Linked DNA regions of Homo sapiens: region 2 is linked to region 1. Evidence: fine-mapped QTL for protein levels in blood plasma. A gene starts in region 1. The other region holds a variant in brackets. All regions are shown on one strand. Distances are between the middles of the regions. Region 1 holds the start of CBLN1 (cerebellin 1 precursor). Region 2 has its middle 310 kb from the start of CBLN1.

Region 1 (10,790 bases):
CACCCAGAGGCCAGTTGGTGGCGATCAGCTTCCAGGGGCAAGAGGAGGGAAGAGGAGGGCAGAGACTGGCTTCAGGGGTGGGGGAGCATGCACATTAGGGGCTCAGTTGTTCAAGTACCTGTCACTGAGGCCTAATGAGGGTGGGAAGACCAAGCATGCTCCTCTGATGTAATTTCTAAGAAATCTACCAGAATTAACATTTGTGGATTTTTCCATTTAATGAATTTTTAAAAAAATACCCGCCCTCTCAGCCCCATTTCTCATTTATTTACCTCTCTTCAAGTGGTATTTAAATTTCTTCTTTCATTTTCCTTCTGGTAACAAAGAAGTCTGTGGCTCAAAAGATGTTTCTCTAAGACCCCATCCTATTAGGTCTCTGAGCTGTGGGAAGTATTTATACAATTGCTTGTGAATATAAGATCCAGGAATTTCCCTAAGATCCCTAACAAAATTGGTGATAAGTAGTCCCACATGTTAATCCAGCCACCCACGGATGACAGCACTTACCATTTCTTTGATAAATGTCAAATGCATTTGAAGTACCTACCTGAAATATTTGTTTAAATGCTATCTAATCTATTAATTTTATATATGTGTGAGTCTGTTTTGTATACCTTCTGATTATAGGATAAATGTAAATAAATCCAAAGAGTAATCAAAGCTACCACTTTCAAGAAGCCTTCTTTGTAGAACCGGAAGAGTCTTAAATAGGCTTTTCAGGTATGCATCTCTTATTATCGCTGAACTCCAAGTCCTGCAAGGCAGGCATCATGTGTGGGTCACCTTTACAGTAGGCACAGGCCTTAAAACAGTGACATGCACATTGCAGGCACTCCATAAATGTTTGCTGAATTGGCTAAACCTTGGTTTGTTCCCATAATCAACCACCACAAACAGCACACAGATAATTACTTCTTGGAAAGATTCCAACTAGTGTTTGATGTTACCTACGTGGTTTTTCTCTCAAGATCTTAAGAGCAGCTCTGTAGGATTACATTATTTTCTGTTTTTTTTTTCCTTTGACCTTAATGTCATCTACTTCAATAACAGCTTCATACAAAATTCCTACCAGCACATACCACAGCAGATTCAAGGCCTTGTTTTAAAAATGGTGCCAGCTTCTCTTAATTTGGAAGATATATTGTCTCTCCTGAACATGGGCTAAGAAAATGTATAATTTGGTATTAACATAAGAGCTGAAGACACTTTAAATGCATTGTTTCATTTTTATAAGATAAAAAAAATTTTAAGAATCAAAATGTTATCAACAGACTTGTCCTTCATTAAAAAGTAAAACTGCATTTGCCTACATTTTATGAAAGTGTCCAATTATGAACAATTTTGAAATGTAACTTTTAAAAATGTAAACAGCAAAAATGTTGTATTTAAAATAAATCTGGAAAGGCAGAAAAACAAAAAATACCCAGAAGACAGAGTTTTTGGTGAAAGTTAAGATATTTCATCTTTGAACAACTTAGAATCTTTCCTGCATTTTATAGTCTAGTTCCAGGCATTAATTTGAAATAACCTTGGAATCCTAAATCTAACACCCTTCGGAACAAAGTAGCTTTTCTCTTCTGCTTTATGAGCAAATGGACTAAATACTAGGGAATGGTACTGTCTGGGCCTTTGAACCAAGATTGAAAGAGATGAAATCCTATATGATATGTATAAACATTAGAGAATCCATTTTGATTTAATAAAAGGTTGAATTTGTTCTATATCCTGTGAGAAAATGGTTCCCTTTTCCTGAAAATGTTACCTCATTCCAACAATAGAAAGTTGGTTTTTTTCCAGGGTGTGGTGTTGGCGGGGGACAGAGTTGCCATGAATATGGCATCTATGAAGACTGCTGTTATATTCATTTCTCAAAATGCACTGTGGTAGGAAATTCAGAACGCAGTGAGAGAAAATAAATGTTTGACTTCAAAATATAAGGCCGCATTTAAAGCAGAAGGTAAAGTATAGAACAGTTGACAGTATAAATTCTTTATCTGCAATCTTGCAGTTCCCTAAATCTCTGTAACACATCACTTTTAAAAGCCTCAGATAAGTGGTTCTATAATAATTTACCAATAATTCAACCCCTCAAAAGTCTTAGCAAGTTAAACCTTATAATCTTACATTTTAGAAATGACCCAACTTGATCCTTTTATTCTTCAGAATATCTCTCTCAAATTTTCATTTGTTTTTCATTAATTGATGAATAATGAGACATTTTAGGTACCTGTCCACAAAGAAATGAAATTTTCACTTTCCAGGAACCTAACAAATGAAAAGATAGAAATCAATTCCAACAGAATATTACCAAAGAAATCTTTTAGAATGGACTGTTAAAATTATTTATTTGTATTTATCTGGCTCTACTATTTGTGGTACATTTCCACTTCAAAGCTAAACCTCAAATAACATCATAGTGAGTGGTTGACTTCATGTTTAACTGAGATCTTGAAGACTGAAAAAGACCACGACAAACACACATCTATTTTCTTGGCTACTGCATCCGTGTTCATCACCATTCTGATAGTCTGCAATGTATTGCAGCTCACCCTTTGGGAAGGACTAAAGTAGACATCTGTTTGTTCTGCTTACTCAGCATTCCTACCCTAATTTTCCTTTGGAGAACCCCTTTATTCTAGACCACGTGAAGCTAATGCCAAACCCCATTCCAGGGGATGCACCTGAATCCAACCTCCATCATCTAAACAGTGCCTTCTCCACGTTCAGAGAAGAGCAAGTGACTCAAACTGCCCTCATAAGAACAGACCTGGGACTTCTGCTGCAAATATTGAAGAGTAAGTACTCTTTTTTCTTGCTAGGACTAAGCTGGTAGTACCTTCTATGAGGCTATCATATGGAAACAACTTGTCTGAAAATGAAGCCACAACTAGAAAACAGATCCTGGTAACCCGGATTGATGGATCCAGCCCTACCTTAAATGGCAAGACCTAACCCGAGGCTTTTTGCATCAACCAATAAAGTCCTTAAGCCAGTTTGAGTTGGTTTTGTCACTTGCAGCTAAAAGAATTCTGACTCTAACAATGTGACAATAGCAAAAATAAACATAACTGCTTTTGAGGTTTCTAATGGATTTTCCTCCCTATATACATGATTTCATTTAATCCTCACAATTCAGGAAAGCACATATCTATTAACATTAAATTAATATTCATTATTTTGAACACATGCTATGTGGATAAGGGATGAGGAAAGCCAAGGAAGTAATCAACGTGAAATCTCACTTATATGGGAGGGAAGTGGAGGTTACATATCTCAGGGCACTTAACAGATATCATCAAATGAAAGAATAAACAGTGTGTGGGAGAGGCAGTAGGTGATTCTTCATCAATTCCTGGATGAAAAATTAGGAGATAATGAACTCCGAACAGGCAGCCTAATGAGAATGGCTCAAGCAACAGGACATAGAGAGGGAGTTAGGTTAGACATGGGGTTCTTGGGAATTTTCACCTCGTGGGGGGGCGGGGGGGTCGTGCAGCTGTTGTCAGTGGGAAAGGGAAAAAGGAAAAGGCTGAGTTTGGAAGGCAGGGAGGGAGGAGACAATGTGAGTCAGTGAAAAAGGGCCCTTAGAATGACAAGTCTGGACCAGAGAGAGGCTAAGACTGAAAATACAAGTTGGGTAACCACTGGCATACAGATGGCAGTTCAGGCTTGGGCACTGCCCACCAGAGCCTCAGCATGAAGAGAAGAGGGGGAGGCTGGCCACCACCTCCCTCTAGGTAATCGTCATCCTGATGCTGAGCTCCTGAAAACAGGCTCTTTCACTCGCCCCATCTCTTGCTCTTGATTGCAACCCGGCATTCAGGAGGCACCCTGTAATATCTGTGGAGTGACCGACAACACAGCGCCAGGGCACTGAGAAGATCCCAGGGCGCCAGGGACTGGTTCTACAAGGGTGCCCCTCCCGGTCCCCTCCAGCGCGCCGCCAGAGCTGCCAGTCTTGGCTGCTACACGGGAGGCAGCCTCATTATGCAGCTCTCACCTCTTAAATTAGTTCATGCTCTCACATTAGGTGTAATCACAGCTTGCAACGCTTTCTGGGGATGTCTCAGAAAGATCTGAGTTGAAAAAATATTTTTGTGTCATTTTAATTTAAAGTAAAATTGCTGCTTCTTCCCCGCCCCTTTCTTTCCTCCTGGCCCACCCAGCGACCCTGGCCGGCCGTGCTCAACGGGGGCGGGGGTCGGAGGTGAGATTTCCTCCACATAATTCCTTAAACAGCTATCAACTAAGTCTCAAAGAAAAAAAAAAGAGATCTAGAAGCAGAGACGTGGCTGCTGGCGATCCCAAAGCTGGTGTTCGCTCTTGGGGGAGAGCGTACCCTGGGGGAGGCCGGGAGGCCGGGCCAGAGGCTAGCCCAGAGGCAGAGGGCAGGAGCGCTCAGCCGGCGCCCCGCGTCTCTCCAGCTCCCGACGCTGCGCTGGCTCCGCTGAGCACGCCAGGATCAAGGTCGCCTGGTGGGGACCGGAGCGCCAGGAGCCTGTGGGAAGCGTTCCAGCCGGCCTCTGACTGGGATCCGGCGCCGCGTTTCTGCTTTGGACTTGACTGACAGGTCCCCCCGCCCTCCCGCCGCCCTACTACCAGCCTGGGTTCATCCTTCAGGGCTACGTCTACCGCACCCGGGCTGGAAAGCCTGGAGCGCGCCCTTCCTCTCCTCATCTTCTCAGCTCTCCTTTCTCCCTGCCACTTGGCAAAGCTGCATTTTGACTTTCACGTTTTGGACTACGTGTGTGTAGTTCCAAGTCCATGCGTGGCACGAAAATCCACTTAGGGTAAAAATTATTCTCGAAAAATCGCCCATCTCAGGATCTGGTGTCTACACTCAAGGCTAGGAGGTGCAGGTACGGGTGCGTAAAGCATGCCGTAAGGGTGCACAGTAAATAAAAAGTACGGATGCAAAATGTAAATTTTAAGTGCAAAACAGAAAAGCAGTACTCGTTGCCGCCCCGCACGCTGGGTTTTAAGGGGCACGAAGGTGGGCCTCGGCTGCTTTTGCTCAGCCCCGCGTCCTCAGCGCCCGGCCCAGTACCCGGTACTCCGTAGGGGTTCAATGATCTCCCCTGAATAAGTGAACGAATTAACAAATGAATGAATGACCGCTCGATCCGACCTCCGCGGCCGGCAGAGCAGTCGCTGGAGAGGCGGGAGAGAGCGAGAGGCCAAGCTCCACCATCGCGGCCGCCGGCTGGGGCAGAGGGACACGGAGACACTCGGCGCCCCGGCTCCGCACCGAGTCCCCGCGGTGAGTGCCCGCCCAGCAGCTCCCGGGCACCACGTGCGCCCGCCAGAGCCGCGCAGGCCCCGCCCCGCCGCGCGCGCACGCGCCCTGCACCCCGGCCGCCGGGACCCTGAGCCAGGCTCGCCCAGCGCGCCGGCTGCCCTCGCGCCCGCGCCCGCTGGGGGGCGCTCCCCTCCCAACGGGCGCGCCCACAGGCGGGCAGGCGACTCGCAGCCTCCAGCGATTCCACTCCCGACCCCGGGGCGCGCCGCCTCCTACCTGAGGGCCGACGAGTGGGGGCGGGCAGGAGGGCCGAGGGAGGCGGAACAGGATCGAGGCGCGAGGCGGGAGTCGAGAAAGCGAGCGGCCGAGGCGACTCTCAGTGCGCGGACGCGGGCGCGCGCCCGCGCTCCCTTCGTCGACTCACGGCGAGAGCCCAACCCTGCTGCCGCGCGCCACCCGCCTCGCCGCGCCTAATAACAACGGCGCCCGGGGTCAGGTGGCCGAGCGCGGACAGCGCCGCCATTGGCTCGGTGGGGAGCGCGGCGCGTCAGGATTGGCTGGGGGGCGTGGCCTCGGCCGGGGCGGGGGCAGGGCCTCGGAGGGAGGCGGGCCGGGAGGCGGCGGGGGCGGGGCCAGGCCGAGGTCCGCGCCTTTGTGCCCGGCGCGCGCTCTCCGCCCGCTCCGGCTGCAGCGCCGGCTGCATCAATAATTCAGAGCGGCGGCGGCGGCGGCAGCGGCGGGTGCGGGCAGGAGGCGGCGGCAGCAGCGGGACCGAGCAGCAGCGGCTATGCATCCAAGTGCGGCTGGGCAGCCGCGGCACCCCTGAGGCCCGGGAGGGGCTCCGGGAACACAGCGCGGAGGGGACGCTAGTCGCGGAGGGGACGCTAGTCCCGGAGTGCGAGGAAGAGGTGTAGTGTCCAGAGCGGCGGCGGCGGAGCTGCGCACGGAGCTGAGGAGGGGGCTTCGGAGCGGGACTGGGACGGGGGGGGCGGCTGGCGCGAGCAGCCCTGGGGGTGGGGGGCGGGGTGGGCGCCGGCGGCGCGATGCTGGGCGTCCTGGAGCTGCTGCTGCTGGGGGCTGCGTGGCTGGCGGGCCCGGCCCGCGGGCAGAATGAGACGGAGCCCATCGTGCTGGAGGGCAAGTGCCTGGTGGTGTGCGACTCCAACCCCACGTCCGACCCCACGGGCACTGCCCTGGGCATCTCTGTGCGCTCTGGCAGCGCCAAGGTGGCTTTCTCTGCCATCAGGAGCACCAACCACGAGCCGTCCGAGATGAGTAATCGCACCATGATCATCTACTTCGACCAGGTGAGTGTTCCTTCCTCCCGCGGCGTGCAGATTGGGCTGGTGAAGGAGGGATGGATGGAAGACCGATGCCCGGTCCTCTCCAAGGGCTCTGCGGAGGCGCGGGGACGACAGTCCGGGACCGATTCCTGCCCACTCCCCTTCGTTCCCGTCTCGTTATAGGTACTAGTGAACATTGGGAACAACTTTGATTCAGAACGCAGCACTTTCATCGCCCCGCGCAAAGGGATCTACAGTTTTAACTTCCACGTGGTAAAAGTCTACAACAGACAAACCATACAGGTCAGCCGACGCCTCGTGCCGGGCCCTGGCCCCGTAGGGGGGTTACTGGCCTCAGGGGTGCTCGGGCTGTCCGGAGGTGGTAGGCAGAAGTGGCGGCTGCATGTACTTCGGGCTGCTTGGAGGGACAGATAGCGGGGCCTCTCAGTTCTGTGGCTTCAACTGTCCTCTGCTTTCCCTGTCTCTGGCTCTTGGGATCCAGCCCCATCCCCCGAGAGACAGAATTTTCTGCTTCTGCCTTCCGGGCCTCTCCGAAGGGTTCCCTGGATTTCAGGGACTTCCTTGTAACGGCTGTTGTTAGCGCCCCAGACAGCTGCCGCTTGGGAAGCCTTCCCGGACTCCCCAGGAAGCACCGCGACAGTACACCCTACCCCTTGCCCCGGCTCAGAAGCCTGCGATGCGGCTTGCGTGCTTGTCTTCAGCACCACGGACGGGGCCCCCGTTTTCTCCCACTTGTCCCCAATCCCCACCCCGTGCGGACTGTGGGTTTTTGAGCTAGCAGCATTTAGCCCCGGAGGGTGAGGGGTAGAGAGAGGAGGGAGGGAGGGGGCGTAGTGCTACTCTCTCCCGGCTCCAGCCGTGTCCCAGCAATCACTCGCCGGCTCTCCGGGTCCCCAAAGATGTCCAGGTTTCCCTTGGGCGCCGAGAGAGGTGGGACGCACAGCTGGGGAGAGGGCGCGAGGCCCTTGGCTGACGGTGCCACCACAGGGGCAAAACCAGGCGGTGGCGGGCGCGGCTGGATGGGGGAGGGAATTGAGCCCGTGGTTTGGGGAGGAAATACATTGTGCCGCTCGGTGCGAGACTTCTAATCACAAATCACAGTGGCTTCTCCACTGTGTCCTGGCAGCTGGGTCCAGGAGGGATCAGGGGCTTTTTGTTTGTTCGTTTTTGTTTTTCCGGTAGCGCCAGAAGGAGCCTGAGTTGCTGGGTTTTTTTTGTTTGTTGTTTGTTTTTTGAGGCTGAGGGGAAACGGGAGAGAGGTCAAAGGTCTCAGGGCGCTAGAGCCACCTCATGGGTTTATTAAATTGGATCACAGAGCACAGTCGAGATTCGCTTGGCGCGCTCATTTGAGAAACTGGAATAAGAGCAACTCCCGTTTTGGGGACAGGCCCTTCCTGTCACCCAGATGTGTGGTCTTTCGCCCCACTGGAGCCTCAGCAGTAAGCTGCAAAGCCCCTTTTCCTCCATTCGCCCCCCCCACCCCCCACCTCTCCGTGCTTCCAGGCCTTACAGGCTGTTAGCCAAGCAAGGAGGAGGTTCGCTCCACCGCGGCTTCGGTGCCTGCCTAGGTTGCGCCTCTGAAGCGGGCCTTTCTCTTTCTCAGGTGAGCCTCATGCTAAACGGGTGGCCGGTGATTTCAGCCTTCGCTGGTGACCAGGACGTGACCCGGGAGGCCGCCAGCAACGGAGTCCTAATCCAAATGGAGAAAGGCGACCGAGCATACCTCAAGCTGGAGCGGGGAAACTTGATGGGGGGCTGGAAGTACTCGACCTTCTCCGGATTCCTGGTGTTTCCTCTCTGACTGGCTCGTAGCCGGAAGGGAGGCAGGGAGAGGGCGAAGGCAGGAAGGGGAGTGAGAAAGAGGCTGAAATTAAGAGGGCGAGAAAGCAGCACGACTTGAAACTTCCTACATGTTCTCTAACTGTATCTGGGTAAAAAGGTGCGCGCCAGCTGTGGGACAACTTTGTCCATTTCCTTATTAGGAGAAATAAATTTCGCTTAGCTCTGCGCACTCCCATTTCCAAAAATAAACTCGCCTCCCCCATTCCAGTTGCAGTAATCAAGAAAGAGACTGCCTTGTCATTGTTTCTTATCCCCCAACTTCATGTTCCCTGCAATTTATTTAAAGAAACTTTGTATTTCACTACATAATCTGAAATCTTTCTCCCTAGCCCCCTCTGAATCCTTCTGCCTACTGAAATCTGATATATTACACACCCCCAACCTTTTTTTTTTCAGTTTGGAAAGGGGTAAAGTTTTGTTGTTGTTGTTGTTTTGTTTTGGATGGGGAAGGTAGTTTTAATTTGGCAAGTGTTGCTCTTCTTAAAACACTGCTCAAATTAATTAGCTGAAGATACTTAGTATCCTCGGCTGCTTGTTAGCAGAGAAAGGACTCACCTTAGTGGTGACTGGTTTAAAAAATATAAATATATATCATTTGTATACGAAGAACTCTTCCCAGTGGAAACTGGCTGTGTTTCCGTATTTCTATGTTCTATTCGGAGTGATCGTGAAATCTAAGGCTGCTTGATGTTCTGATGCTTGTCAATGCCGTCGTGCTCTGTGACTCCACGAAACGCCAAGGAGCTTCTTCCGGACGCCTCCTCTTCCTCTGTAACATACGTGTGAATAGTCAAGGTTTAATTTTGCTTTAATCTAATAAAGTCGAAGTGGGACTTTTATTTTTCTGAAACAGCTTTCTAAAATCCGCATCTTCCCCAGCTGCGAGGTTGGGGGTCTGGGGTGCCAAAGGGCGAGGTTCCGAAAGGCAGGAGACTTGGGGGAACGCAACCATAGAAAGGCCTGGGCGCGAGGGCTTCCTTGCAAAGCCGGCCTTGCGCTCCTTCCTGCGCCAGGCCGGGGACCAGCACTGCATTCGCCTGTGTTCACAGCTTTGGCGGAAACGTAAGAAATGTGGCCGAAATCTTGCTAGGCCAGGCGCGGCCGCCGGCCCAGGAGCGAAGTTTGATTTTTTTCTTTGCATTCCAAATGCATCAGGAATAGTCCCAGTTTGAGGACCCAAACGACCCTGCCTGGAGCGGCAGACTCCTCAGGCCTTCTGTCCCCGGATGTCTCCCACCGCGTCCCCCTCGCAGTTCCCGAAGCAGCGTATGTTTTATACACCGCCTCTGAATCCGGAGTCCACCCGCCGCATACTCGGGCGCCCAGGACCTATGATTCCGCTCATTCACAGGACTTTATTCAAGAGGTTCGTCCAGGAGTTTTGATTGTATCGGAACATAATGTGAAAGCAAAAATGAAATAAACGACTTCGTTTTAAGTCTGAAAGGCTGACCCAGTTGCTTCGGCAGCGGGGAGGTCGGGAGCCGGAGCGAGTGGGCAGCCTAGGGCGAAGGGCCGGGAGCTGGGAGCTGCAGCCGGGTGGTCCCCTGCAGTTGTGGTTCCTTTCAGAGAAACGTTTTCCTGGCCCAATATTCAGGAATGAATTTTATTTCCTCTAGGGGCGTGGGGAGAAGGGAAAGTTAATAATAGCACAATAAACAACGTTTCTCGGATTTATCCCAGCGGCTGGTTCGAGTTAGAAATTCACGGAGCACGGGGCCTCTGTTGAAACCCGGGCCCGTTTCTTCTCCGCATGCAATCCGGTAAGCCGTGGAGCAGCTCTAGCGGGCGCCCTTGCAGCCCTGTGCCTCCGGGACCCACAGAGATAGATAGGGACTTCGCGAGTGAGGAGTGGACCCGAGTACTTTTCTGTTTCTGCCCAACAGTTTCCCTTCTACTCTGTTAGGCCCCAGGGAAGTGTGAATGAGAAGAAATAAGGGGCCTTAAAGGGATTTAAAGAAAAACTGCTTTTAATAAAGAGACGCGCTTTCTCCGAAGTCTCCTGGTTGGGAAGGAGAGGTCGGAGACAGTTGGAGCCTTTGGCAGCGAAACTAGCTCCACCCAGCAGCTCTGCCGTTGCAGGGCCAGCCCTCCGGGCTTGTGGAGACCCTATAGTCAGTAGGGTGCGTGTAAGCTTGAGGCTGTAGGGCCGCGAAGGTTGGAGAGCCACCGCTCAAGGAAGCTGCCCCTGTACGCTTTGGCGCTCCCTGGGCTGCAGGTGGGTGGGTCACCTCTCTTCCTGAGGGCAAGAACCACCAGGGTTCTGGTCTCCGTGGCTGCCTGTTCTGTGGGGCCACCAGGCTGTGTCCCGGTGGAGTGACTTTGGCAAGTCCGCTATCAGGTCCTAAATTTGCCCATTTATATAAAGACAGGGAGAAATCTAAACACCTCTCAGAGTTCCTCCT
Region 2 (10,790 bases), 310 kb after region 1:
AGAGGTTGCAGTGAGCCGAGATCGTACCATTGCACTCCAGCCTGGGCAACAAGAGCAAAACTCTCTCTCAAAAAAAAAAAAAAAAAAAAAAAAAAAAGAGCAGGCCTTCTGCAGCTCAAAATGGCCGTCTTCACTGGCACTGTCTTGCAGTTACTCGTGATAAGAACTTGGCCTCAGCCAGAAGGCTCTGCCACATCCAGGACTCTTCTTCCCAGACAGAGAGACCCATGGAAGAAGTACCAGACAAGGACTCCTTTTGTTTTCTTCATTCTCCCTGGACTGGCTCATTAACCTTTACTCTCCTTTTTCCTCTTCGTGTTAAATGCTATTTTGTTTACTGTGGAATGTTCAATCTAGAACATGTGTATATTAAGCATACTATTATATATGGTTTGCAATATTGACTGACTTGAAGAATGGCTTGATCCTGTGTGCCTGTGGGCTCTGACTCCTGAGTGAACGAGAAGTCCTGAAGAGGAGGTTATGGCTTTTGTGATTGAAGCAGCATCAATAAAAACCTGACATTGCAGAAAGACAAAAACATGCATGGACCTGGTTGTCTCTAACCTTGCACCACTCATGACCATGTCCCAGAGGCCCCCTTGGGAAAGAATCTCAGAGTCATTACTCAAGTCTCCTCCAAGTGTTTGCCTAGACCAGCTTGATTACCTCCAGTGATGGAGCACACACTATCTGTGCTCTTTGAAGCGATCTGAGAGGTCTCTGGTATTGAGATTCTCCGGGGGAAACAGAAAGCCTGGGGTCAAATTGCCAACATTCGCAGCTAAGTGATAAATCTGGGAATTGTAAGCAGCCAGGAACCTTTAAGAAGGCCTTCATGGAGGGTCTGCAGAAAGGCTCCATGCTACCCCCAGGGGCTTACATGTAGCAGCCCTGTGCACCTCTGGCCAGCCTACACCTAGAAACCGCTGGGTTACAGCCCCAGCTCCAGTACTTCTTAAAGAGGGTGACAAGGGCAGAATGTACAACTTCATATTGGAGATAATTTTTCTCACGTTCCCAGGTGTCTGTAGAGATGGGTCTTGATTAAGGTTTATTATCCTCCTGAGACTGGCAGAGCCACATAAAACACCCACAAGCTTTATTCATGGACTTTCTTCCCTTTATGGCCAGATAAAAAAACAGTCCAATCCTCCCAGCTCCCTAGATGGAGAGAAGGAAAGCCAATCCTAGGGACACCCTCACTGGTTCCAGGAGGCCTGCCTGGGCCTGTCCACATCCCACCCATGAGGCGTCAGCTGCCCACCTTCCCCCTCCCTCAGCCCCCTCTGCTGTCACGTCTCACCTCTCCTGAGTCACCAGAGCTTTAATTTGGGCTAATCTCCACTCCTGACTCAGGTAGGGGTGGTGGTGAAAAATCAAAATGAGGACACAAGCTGTCAGGAATAAGACAAGAGAGACTTGTCAGTCTAATCAACTTTATTAGCAGTGAGTCACAGGAAAGCCTCCAGCAGCTTCCCCCCTTTTCCTTGATGCCTCCCTTTAGTCTCTATGAAGTTGCCAGCAAAGCAGATGCAACCAAGCCAGGGCTCAATTAGCACAGAGGAGGTAGGAGCGGGGGAAGCTGTGTGGCACCCCCAGGGGACAGCACAGACACTGCTGTGATCAGGGCTGGCAGGAGGGAGGTGGCGGCCTGGTTGCTTCAGGTGAGGGGCTGAGGGTCTTCTCCCCCTGGGGAGGGGGAGGCTGTGAGGTTTAGGGACATAGTTTATAACCTCTAGAATTCTGGGGCTGGGAGGGATGGAAAGGCCCCATCTAAGCTAACCCCTTGCTTTGAGCCAGGGAAGGATCTTTAACAAGCCCTCCCCAGACCGGAAGGAGAGCACACATCACAGGACGACGGCCTGGATCCCTGGTAGATTTGCAGCTCCTGGTTCTAGATGTTGCTGAGACCTGGCCCTGAAACTACTTGCCTGGGGGTCTCAGATCTGTGTCCTCATAATGCATCTTCCCTTTTCTGCTGTACAGCAGCTTAAGTGGTTTTGTTTCTTGCAACCAAAGCGGTCTTGATTAAAAGAGTCTGAAACTATGGCATTTTGCAACATGGACCTACTGAATAAGCCTCCAATCTGGATTTTCTCTAAGCCCTAGAACTATATATCTAACTGCCTGGTGGACTTCTCCACTTGGGGTACTATAGGCCCCTAAACTCAATAGCCATTTTACTGTAAATGTCCAAACATTAGAGAGAGTGCTAAAGACCCCCTGAACCACATCCCATCCCCAGTCCCCTCCTTGGAGGGGAGCCCCATTATTGATTGGTTTGCATGAGGCCAGATCTTTTTAAAGGCATGTGCATGTGAACACACGCATATAGATATGTAGATGCATGTTTGTCTGTTTTGTTTACTTAAATGACTTTATAGTCAATATATCATTTGACAACTCACTCTTTTCCTATTCAAGTAAATATCAGCCTTTTAAACTGCTGCATATTATTTTACAAGCTGGATATACCGTAATTAATTTAATTATTCCCTATCACAGGACATTTAGGCTGTATTCTACTTTTATTTTTTTCAGTCACAGAGAGCACTGCAGGGGACTTCCTTGTAAAGACCCTTTGGGACACATGCCAGGGCTTTTTGGGGACAGGCATAGATAGCTGGACTTGCAGCTCCCAAGAAATGGATTCACTTCTGCCCTCCTCACCCACTATCCAGCCCGAGGAACCCAGGGGTCTTTCTTTTCCCTTTCAGCCAATCACCAGTGCTGGCTGGTGATCTCACCTTGCCTTCCGAATTCACAGCTTCTCATCCGTTTCACTGGGCCCGCTCGCCTTCAGACCCACCTACCCCCTGCCTCAACCATCACCATGGCGGTTTCTCACTGGCCAACCCCCAAGTTCAGCCCTGGCCCTGGCTAATCTGCTTCTACTCTTTGATAGAGGAACTTACTGAAAATGTAAACTTGATGGGGTGGTCCACCGCCTAACCACAGGCTCCTCAGCATCCCAAGAAAAGGCCCAAATTCCTCACTGTGGCATGCAAGGCACTTTGTTGTCTTGGACTGTTTTGTGCTGCTGTAACAGAAACCTGAAATTGGGTAATTTATAATTAACATAAATGTATTGGTTCATAATTCTGAAGGCTGGGAAGTTCAAGATCAAGGGGCTGGCAACTGGTAAGGGCCTTCTTGTTGTGTTATCCCATGGCAGAAGGGCAAAGAAAGAGCAAGAGATCAAACTTGCAGCCTCAAACCATTTTATAACCAGCATTAATCCATTCATGAGCGTGGAGCCCGCATGATCTAAACACCTCCCACTGGGCCCTGCCTCTCAACACTGTTGCTTTGGGGATTAAGTTTCCAACACATGCATTTTGGGGTGACCCAAGCCTGGCAGTGGTCCAAGCCTAGCTTCCCAGGCCAGATCATTTCTCTGTCACTTCTGCTGTAACCCTCTAAAAACAGAGAACTGGCTGTAGTCCTCCACTCACCCCCACTCTGCTATTTCTTGACTCGACTTTTGCTCATGCAGTGATTTCTTACACCACTAGACTCAGTTCAGGTGTGACCTCACCCAGAGAGCCATCTCCAAAGCAGAATCAGGTGCCTCTCTCAGGTCCTCTTGAAGCACACTCTGGCCCCTTTCGCATGGCACTTCTCACCCGTATGTTAATTATTCATATATGCATGTATCTGTTCTCCCACCAGACTGTGAGCTCCATATGGATGAGCACTTGATTTCTCCCACCACAGTGTCTGCAGAACACAGAGACAGCTCTGTCTCTCTCTTGATCCATGTGTTTTGGGAGATCTGGCCCCACTTCCTATCTCCATGAAATTTCAGTGTTACCCTGGGTTTTTTTTTGTTTTTTTTTTTGAGACAGAGTCTCTCTCTGTTGCCCAGGCTGGAGTGCAATGATGCGAGCTCAGCTCACTGCAACCTCCACCTCCTGGGTTCAAGCGATTCTCCTGCTTCAGCCTCCCCAATAGCTGGGATTACAGGTGTGTGCCACCATGCCCAGCTAATTTTTGTATTTTTAGTAGAGATGGGGTTTTACCATGTTGGCCAAGCTGGTCTTGAACTCCTGACCTCAAGTAATCCGCCTCGGCCTCCCAAAGTGCTGGGATTACAGGTGTGAGCCATTGCGCCCTGCCTCATCCTGGCTTTTAAGTCAGTCAGTAGGAATGGTCATTAGGTCTGGGACGTTTTGTTCAAACTCTTGGGAAAGAAAGGCTGTCTTCTCAGCTTGACTTGGCATTGTGAGACTATGAAGCTAACGAGACTGCTGCCACCTCACCATCTTCAGGAGTTGGCCCATGTAAGAATGGGAGCCAAGAAAAGAAAAGAATAAATACTGAGTTCTGACGACACCATCTGAGCTCCACAAAACGGGCATCTCTCCTCCATTGGACTTCCCTTTTGTGTAAGCCAATAAATTTCTTTTCATTTTAAGCTGGCTTGAACTGTGTTTTCTGTCACTTGCAGCTGAAACAGGTCAGTAGATGTGCAAAGAAAGGGCATGGATGTCTCAGGCCCCTGTGTGGTCCCCTCGTACATTGAATAGGGCTGACATGTGTGACCAATGGGATATCGCAGAAGTCACTGCATGTCACTTGCAAGACTAGGCCATAAAGAACTTTGCAGCTTCCACCTTGCTCCCTCTGGGGATGCCAGCCATCATGTCATAAACACATTCATTCAGTCCCCCTGGAGGGGCCCAGGGAAGAACTGAGATGTCCACCAAATTGCCAGCCATGTGAGACAGATGCCTTGGAAGCAGATCTCCAGCATCAATCAGGCTTTCAAAAGGCTGCAGCCTCATCAGACACCCTGAGCAAGCACCCCAAATCCCTAACACACAGAAGCTGTTAGAACAATCAATCATTATTGTGGTTTGAAGTCACTACATTTTCGGGTAATTTGTTACACAGCAATGTGTACCTCCCAAATCAGCTGCTCCAACATGGAAACCCTGACCTTCAACATTCCTCAACCTTCAGATGGCACCAAAATTGACCCAGCTTTTCAGACCAATAAAATAAAAACCTAGGCGTCATCCTTGAATTCTTCATTTTTCTTGCACTCCACAGCCAGTTCAAATATTAATCATGTTGGTTTTGCCTCCAAAATACATCCTGAATCCAACCATTTTTCTCTACCTTCACCTCTATAAACCTAGCGCGGCGACCCTAATCTCTCTTGACTGACACAATGGTCTCTGAACTGGTCTCAGCTGTGCTCTTAAATCCATATAAAAGACTCTTCTT[G/A]CAGTGAGAATAATCTTGTGAAAATTCACCACAGATCACATCATACCCCTGTTTGAAACCCTCCAATGGCTTCTCAGCTCCATTTGAATAAAATCCCAACTCCTTACCTGGGATTAAGGCCCTGCACGCTGGCTCCAGCTCCCTTACCAAACTCATCTCTTCTTATCCTCTATTATCCTCTGTGCTGCAGCACAACTGGCCTCTGTCTGCCCTGCAAACATGCAAGGACTGCTGTGGACAGGGTCCCACCTGATCACCCCTTTGGTAGGGCTTCTCACGGCTGTCCCTCATGATCCAGGCCTCAACTCAAATGTCACCACCCCAGACCTGCTTTAGCAGCCTCAACCTCCATTCTAGCCTTGGTTTACTGTCTTCTCCAAGCCATTTATCCTTACCTGAAACAGTATTATTTTTTTCAAAGGTCTTCCCTTCCCCACCCCCTCACTAAAATATAACCTTGGTGAGGGCAGAGGCCTTGTCTTGTTATTCACTGCTATGATTGTATGGCCTAGACCAGTGTCTGCTATATAGCAGGTGTTCAATACATTTTGTTGTCTGAACAGCTGACCAGTGTTCCACAGAATAGTCTTTGGGAAATACTGAGCTAAGTCATCTCAAAGGTCAGTTGCAGCTCCTAAAATGGTGCTGTTTCTTATTCAGCCTGATTCTGCTCTTCCCTTTGCAAAAGATGCATCCAATGGAAGGGAGAAAACTCATCTTCTCTTCGCAACTGGAGTTTTCTCATCATCTAGGTAGGGTGGTTGTGGCTTAGATAAGGCTAGTGGCTTCCTGAAAGCTCCACAGCCAGCCTGTGCCAGGGCTGGGAATCGGAATTCCACTCTGCCAACCCTGAGAAGCTTTGAGGTGGAGGAGAGGAGAACCAAAAGAGTTGGCAGAGCTTGTTTGCTAATGGAAGGGAAGTCACCATGATGCTGATGAAGCCCCAGGGCCCTCACTAACACTGATCCTTTCCAGGGCCCTCACAAGCACTGACCCTTCCCAGGGCCCTCACTCGCACTGACCCTTCCCAGGGCCCTCACTCGCACTGACCCTTCCCAGGGCCCTCACTCGCACTGACCCTTCCCAGGGCCCTCACTCGCACTGACCCTTCCCAGGGCCCTCACTCGCACTGACCCTTCCCAGGGCCCTCACAAGCACTGACCCTTCCCAGGGCCCTCACTCGCACTGACCCTTCCCAGGGCCCTCACATGCACTGACCCTTTTCAGGACCCTCATTCACACTGACCCTTTCCAGGGTCCTCACATGTACTGACCCTTTTCAGGGCCCCAGGAGAGGCACTAGCAATGGGCTCACATGTTCAGATGTTTTTGTACAACCTGCAAAAGCAAGGTATTTGAACCACATCAGCTGACTCCGCTATTTCTTTCCCCGGCCATGTGCTCCTGCCAGGCGATGTTGGGAAAGTGTGGGCATTTGGGGATCTGACTGGGAAGAGGTTGTGTCAGAGTTACATCTAGCATGAACATAAGGGGATATATTTACACAGTTTTCAATTGATCTCATGGAGACTTTAGCTTTTGCCAGCTGTTCTGGTGTAGGCATGACTTCCAGGAATATCTCTACTCGCTCCCTTTGTGTCATGACATGAAGAAACAAGGCCAGAGGTCACATCATGAGATGAACAGGCCCAAATGCACTCGACCCCAGAAAAGAGTGAGAAAGTGTAGGTCCTAGAAGCTAGTCTGTGGCTTGTGCCCCTAATCCTCAGACATGTGCAATGGGAAATGAAGAAGCTGGCTTTTGCTGATGCCTCATCAAAATGGAAGTTTTTTTCTGCAAAAGGATCTTTCTAATTTCCCTATAGACACATAATCATTGTCATGGGAAGAGGCAATCAAAGAGTATAAAGCCAATACATAGAGAGAATTTGGAAAATATTTTAGAGGTGTGTCAGCAGTTAATGAATACAAACGTCATGCTATTTTTTGGATTTTCTGATGTTTGTGGTGCCCATCTGTGGTGCTGTATAGCTTTCAGGAAGCCACTAGCACTATCTAAGTCAGCTTTTAAACTGTTTTTTTCATTATTTCTTTTTTTTTTTGCTCTAAATCAATATTCACTTTCATATCTAATTTCGTGTTCTTTTTTCTTAAAGAGGATCCCACAATTGGACAAGCTTCCCCTTGGAGCCTACATCCACACCTGATTATCAGCAGGGACTCGGGCTGTGATGAGAAGCAGGGGTGGCGTCCTGGGCCCAGAGGTCTGTTCTGGCCAAAAAGAGATGAGTCTTTCCCTGCACAGGCTAGAACAGCTGCTGTCCCCTCCTCCAGCACTGAAACCCTGGTTCCCTCCAGCCTTCATTTTGGGCTGAAGGCCAAATGATTTCCTGTGTTTTCTTTGTTTATCAGCTCTCTATTATCATGATGGCAAGAGCCACCCACTCAATAAAGCAAAGTAAACAAACTCCCACAAACCGACAAACAGCTTTGAGTGTGCAGCCCCGATTTGATTTCCTAATTAACAAGCCATTCTCAGCCAATCAGACGATGTGCATGTCATCCCATTTGGATTTGTGGGCAAACCAATGATTCCTGGGCTTCAAGCCATTGCTCTATGGAGGGGAGGGGGCTACTGGGGAGGGACCACCTCATGGCAGTTGCTACACTCATTCCTGGGCTTCCTTGTCCCTCCTCCCCGTCCCTCCTTCATCTGTCTACACAGAGTTAGCGGGCTTGCAGGGCTGTTTCCAGACCGCTGGGTCCAAGGCAATGGGGTGAAGCCCCTTTCCTTTGTGGCATCACAGCTCTTGCTTTTCCTCTTGTTCCATCTGCTGGTGCCAAGGCCCTCCTGGCGAGTAAGCCCCATGATGAGTTCTGTTAGTGCACAAAGACAACCGCTCATGGCAGTGAGATCCGGTGCCCTGGCTGCTCTTTCCAGAGCCTTCTTAGAGGGGGCTGAATAACAAAATTCAGGGACCCCCATGAGCGAAGGAAAGGTATCTCACCTTCCCAGAAGGCACATGGATGCTCCCAACCACTCACTTGCTCTCCTCCCCATCACAACTATCTGCTGTCACCAGTTCTGCATTCTGGCAAGTGGCTCTCCATCCCTGGGCCTTGGTCTCCCCATCCATGAAAAGGAGCAGTGGGAGAAGCGTGAGGCCCTGTAGGATGGCCCTCACACCAAGCCTGGCTGGCAGGTGTGCTGAGTGCTCTACACAATACTTGTCTTATTTTTATATTTGATTTAGTTGTCTACATTTTAAAAATGGAGAGAGTCATTATTTTTAAAATGTATATTTCAGGATTAAAAAAAATACTCAGAAGATCTGGCATCATTGAGTATATGTTCCCTTGTGACAAACAAGAAGAGAAGCAGCTGCCTTGAAGAGAAGAGACTGGGGTGCTCCAGTTCCCCCCAGTTGCCACCACTCCCTATTGCTCTACCCAGTCCACCTCACTTGTGTAGGTTATTTGTGGGATCCCTGAAGGCATGCACATTTGTAAGGATGGCCCTTTTTGTTTAATAGATTGTGGTTTTAATTCCACAGTTCATTCCTTCTGCAGATGATGAGCTTATTCCACAGGTATTTATTGAGCCTCTCTTGTGTTCCTTGTGTTTTACTAAGCACTGAGGAATGCTTAAATGGGGTGAAAGGCATGGCCCCTACCCTTAGAGAACTGTGAGTTTAGCTGCAGGCATATGAGGACCTGGATGAGAATTCATGACCTTGGAGGAGGCCTTCCTACCTAGTGAGAGGAGATAAGGCCCAGTTTAAACTCCTCCTCCCGCTTGTTCCTGTATAATAGCAAGACTACATTTACATGGCACCTCACAGTTTCAGGACACTTTCCTATCTATTAAGTCTGAGTCCTGACCACAACTCAGAGAGGCAGAGATTATTTCCAGATACTCCCAGATGCCAAGAGACTTCCTGCATTCTCTACCAGTTGTGTTTTTAACACTCAGCACAAACACAACCAGACATCATTTTAAAACTTGGCATCTGCCATTCTGAATGATTGGATGCTGTGCCCACCACAGCCTTTGCCAGGAATATCCCTGGTCCATAGCCTAAAGAGATACTGGAGAGGTGTCTTTCTCACTCAAAGACAGAACAAAGACCCCCCTTCTTCTATGCACGGCACATGCCTTCTAATTCCCTATGTCAGCTTGTACCATCCACAAGCACTGTGAAGGGCAACAGCCAATCCCAGCCTGTTCATCTTCCTGTGGTCCAGCAAGCATCCCTCTTGGCCAGCCCTCCCCGAGGGCTTACCTGTGGAGGGACAATTCCATCCCCCTCACACTTTGGACTGACCACAGAATAAGCGTCCAGGGTCATTTTAAATGAGAGTCTTCTAGTTCTGCAGAAATGAGAAAACAAATCCTAAGGAACAAGAGGACATGTGGGGCCAGAGTGCATAGATCTAAAGTCCTTCTCCCTCTGAGGACAGGACCCTGAGTTCTCTTTCTAAGGCTCCACGGCAAGGGTCATAAGCCTGTCTCACCCTCGATGACTGTGCCTCAAAGGCATGAGTGGTGTTGATGACTGATGAGCCCCTGACAGGCAGCCAAGGGCACTGCAAGCCCAGCCCCCATCTTCATGACATCTAAGCTGCTCCATTGGTAACAAGCTTCTCCCTGGTTAAAAGTAATAAATCTCCTCTGATTTAAGTGACAGCTTGTTGGGATTGTTTCCTTGGGCTTTGACATAAAGAAGAAATTTAAATCCAACATAATCTGGACTGAAATAATGATGTTAGCTCTGAAGGCTGAGATGGTTCAAGCAGGACAAGGCATAGGAGATAGACCCTTTTAGGGACTCAGCGAGGCCCTCATCATGCCTCGATGGATGCATGGAGGGTAGGGTTAAGTTCCACTAAGGCCTGCATTGTGCTGTCCTATTCTTCACCCTTCCTTCCTTCCTTCTTTTCTTCCTTCCTACCTTCCTTCCTTCCTTCCTCCCTCTTTTCCTCCCTCCCTCCCTCCTTCCTTCCTCCCTGGGTCTTGTTCTGTCACCCAGGCTGGAGTACAGTGGTATGATCATAGCTCACTGCAGCCTCGAACGCCTGGGCTCAAGCAATCCTCTCACTTCAGCCTCTCAAGTAGTTGGAACTGGAACTGCAGATCCGCAACACCACACCTGGTTAATTTTTTTGTTTTTTGTTTTGTAGAGACAAGTTCTCCCTATGTTGCCTAAGCTAGTCTCAAGCTCCTGGCTTCAAGCAATCCTCCTGCCTCAGCCTCCAAAAGTGTTGGAATCACAGGCCTGAGCCACTGGCACCAGGCCATGCTTCACTTATACCTGCATGCTCCTCACCTCCACTTAGGTGCCTGGGACCACCTTCACTGCCACCCCAAACTGAGCTGCCTTAATCAGCACCCAAGATAGCAGATCTTTTCTCTCCCATCCCCTCACCCAAACTGATCCATCCCATCTGAGGGACACACATGGACTCACTCCCAGGTGCTAAAGCTGAAGTTGACCACAGAGCCTTTACTGAAATGAGGCACATATTTCCAAATCCTTCCTCACCCTTCCCGCATAATATGAGCCTAGAAATGGCCAGGCTGGGACCCCAGAGAG

The links. PIP is the posterior inclusion probability: the model's chance that the variant is causal. Sun 2018 read protein levels with aptamers (SomaScan).
Region 2: its variant is fine-mapped to the plasma level of the CBLN1 protein (Sun 2018, PIP 0.95).

What each region holds. Positions count from the first base shown.
Region 1 is chr16:49,276,958-49,287,747 of GRCh38, reverse strand. It overlaps CBLN1 (cerebellin 1 precursor), which reads left to right and starts at 5,910. Exons shown (of 3, transcript NM_004352.4): 1 at 5,910-6,546; 2 at 6,706-6,825; 3 at 8,147-9,831. The coding sequence starts at 6,283. The coding sequence ends at 8,344. SYNAGE (synapse stability regulating cerebellar lncRNA) reads right to left here and starts at 5,686. Exons shown (of 4, transcript XR_933530.4): 1 at 5,516-5,686; 2 at 273-381; 3 at 1-28. RefSeq lists silencers at 5,257-5,356, 5,727-5,836 and enhancers at 6,189-6,806, 8,884-9,408, 9,409-9,935.
Region 2 is chr16:48,962,444-48,973,233 of GRCh38, reverse strand. No RefSeq gene overlaps it. Among named protein-coding and RNA genes, the nearest start is that of CBLN1, 310 kb to the left of the region's middle. RefSeq lists an enhancer at 8,742-9,941. The variant G/A (reference allele first, on the strand shown) is at 5,236.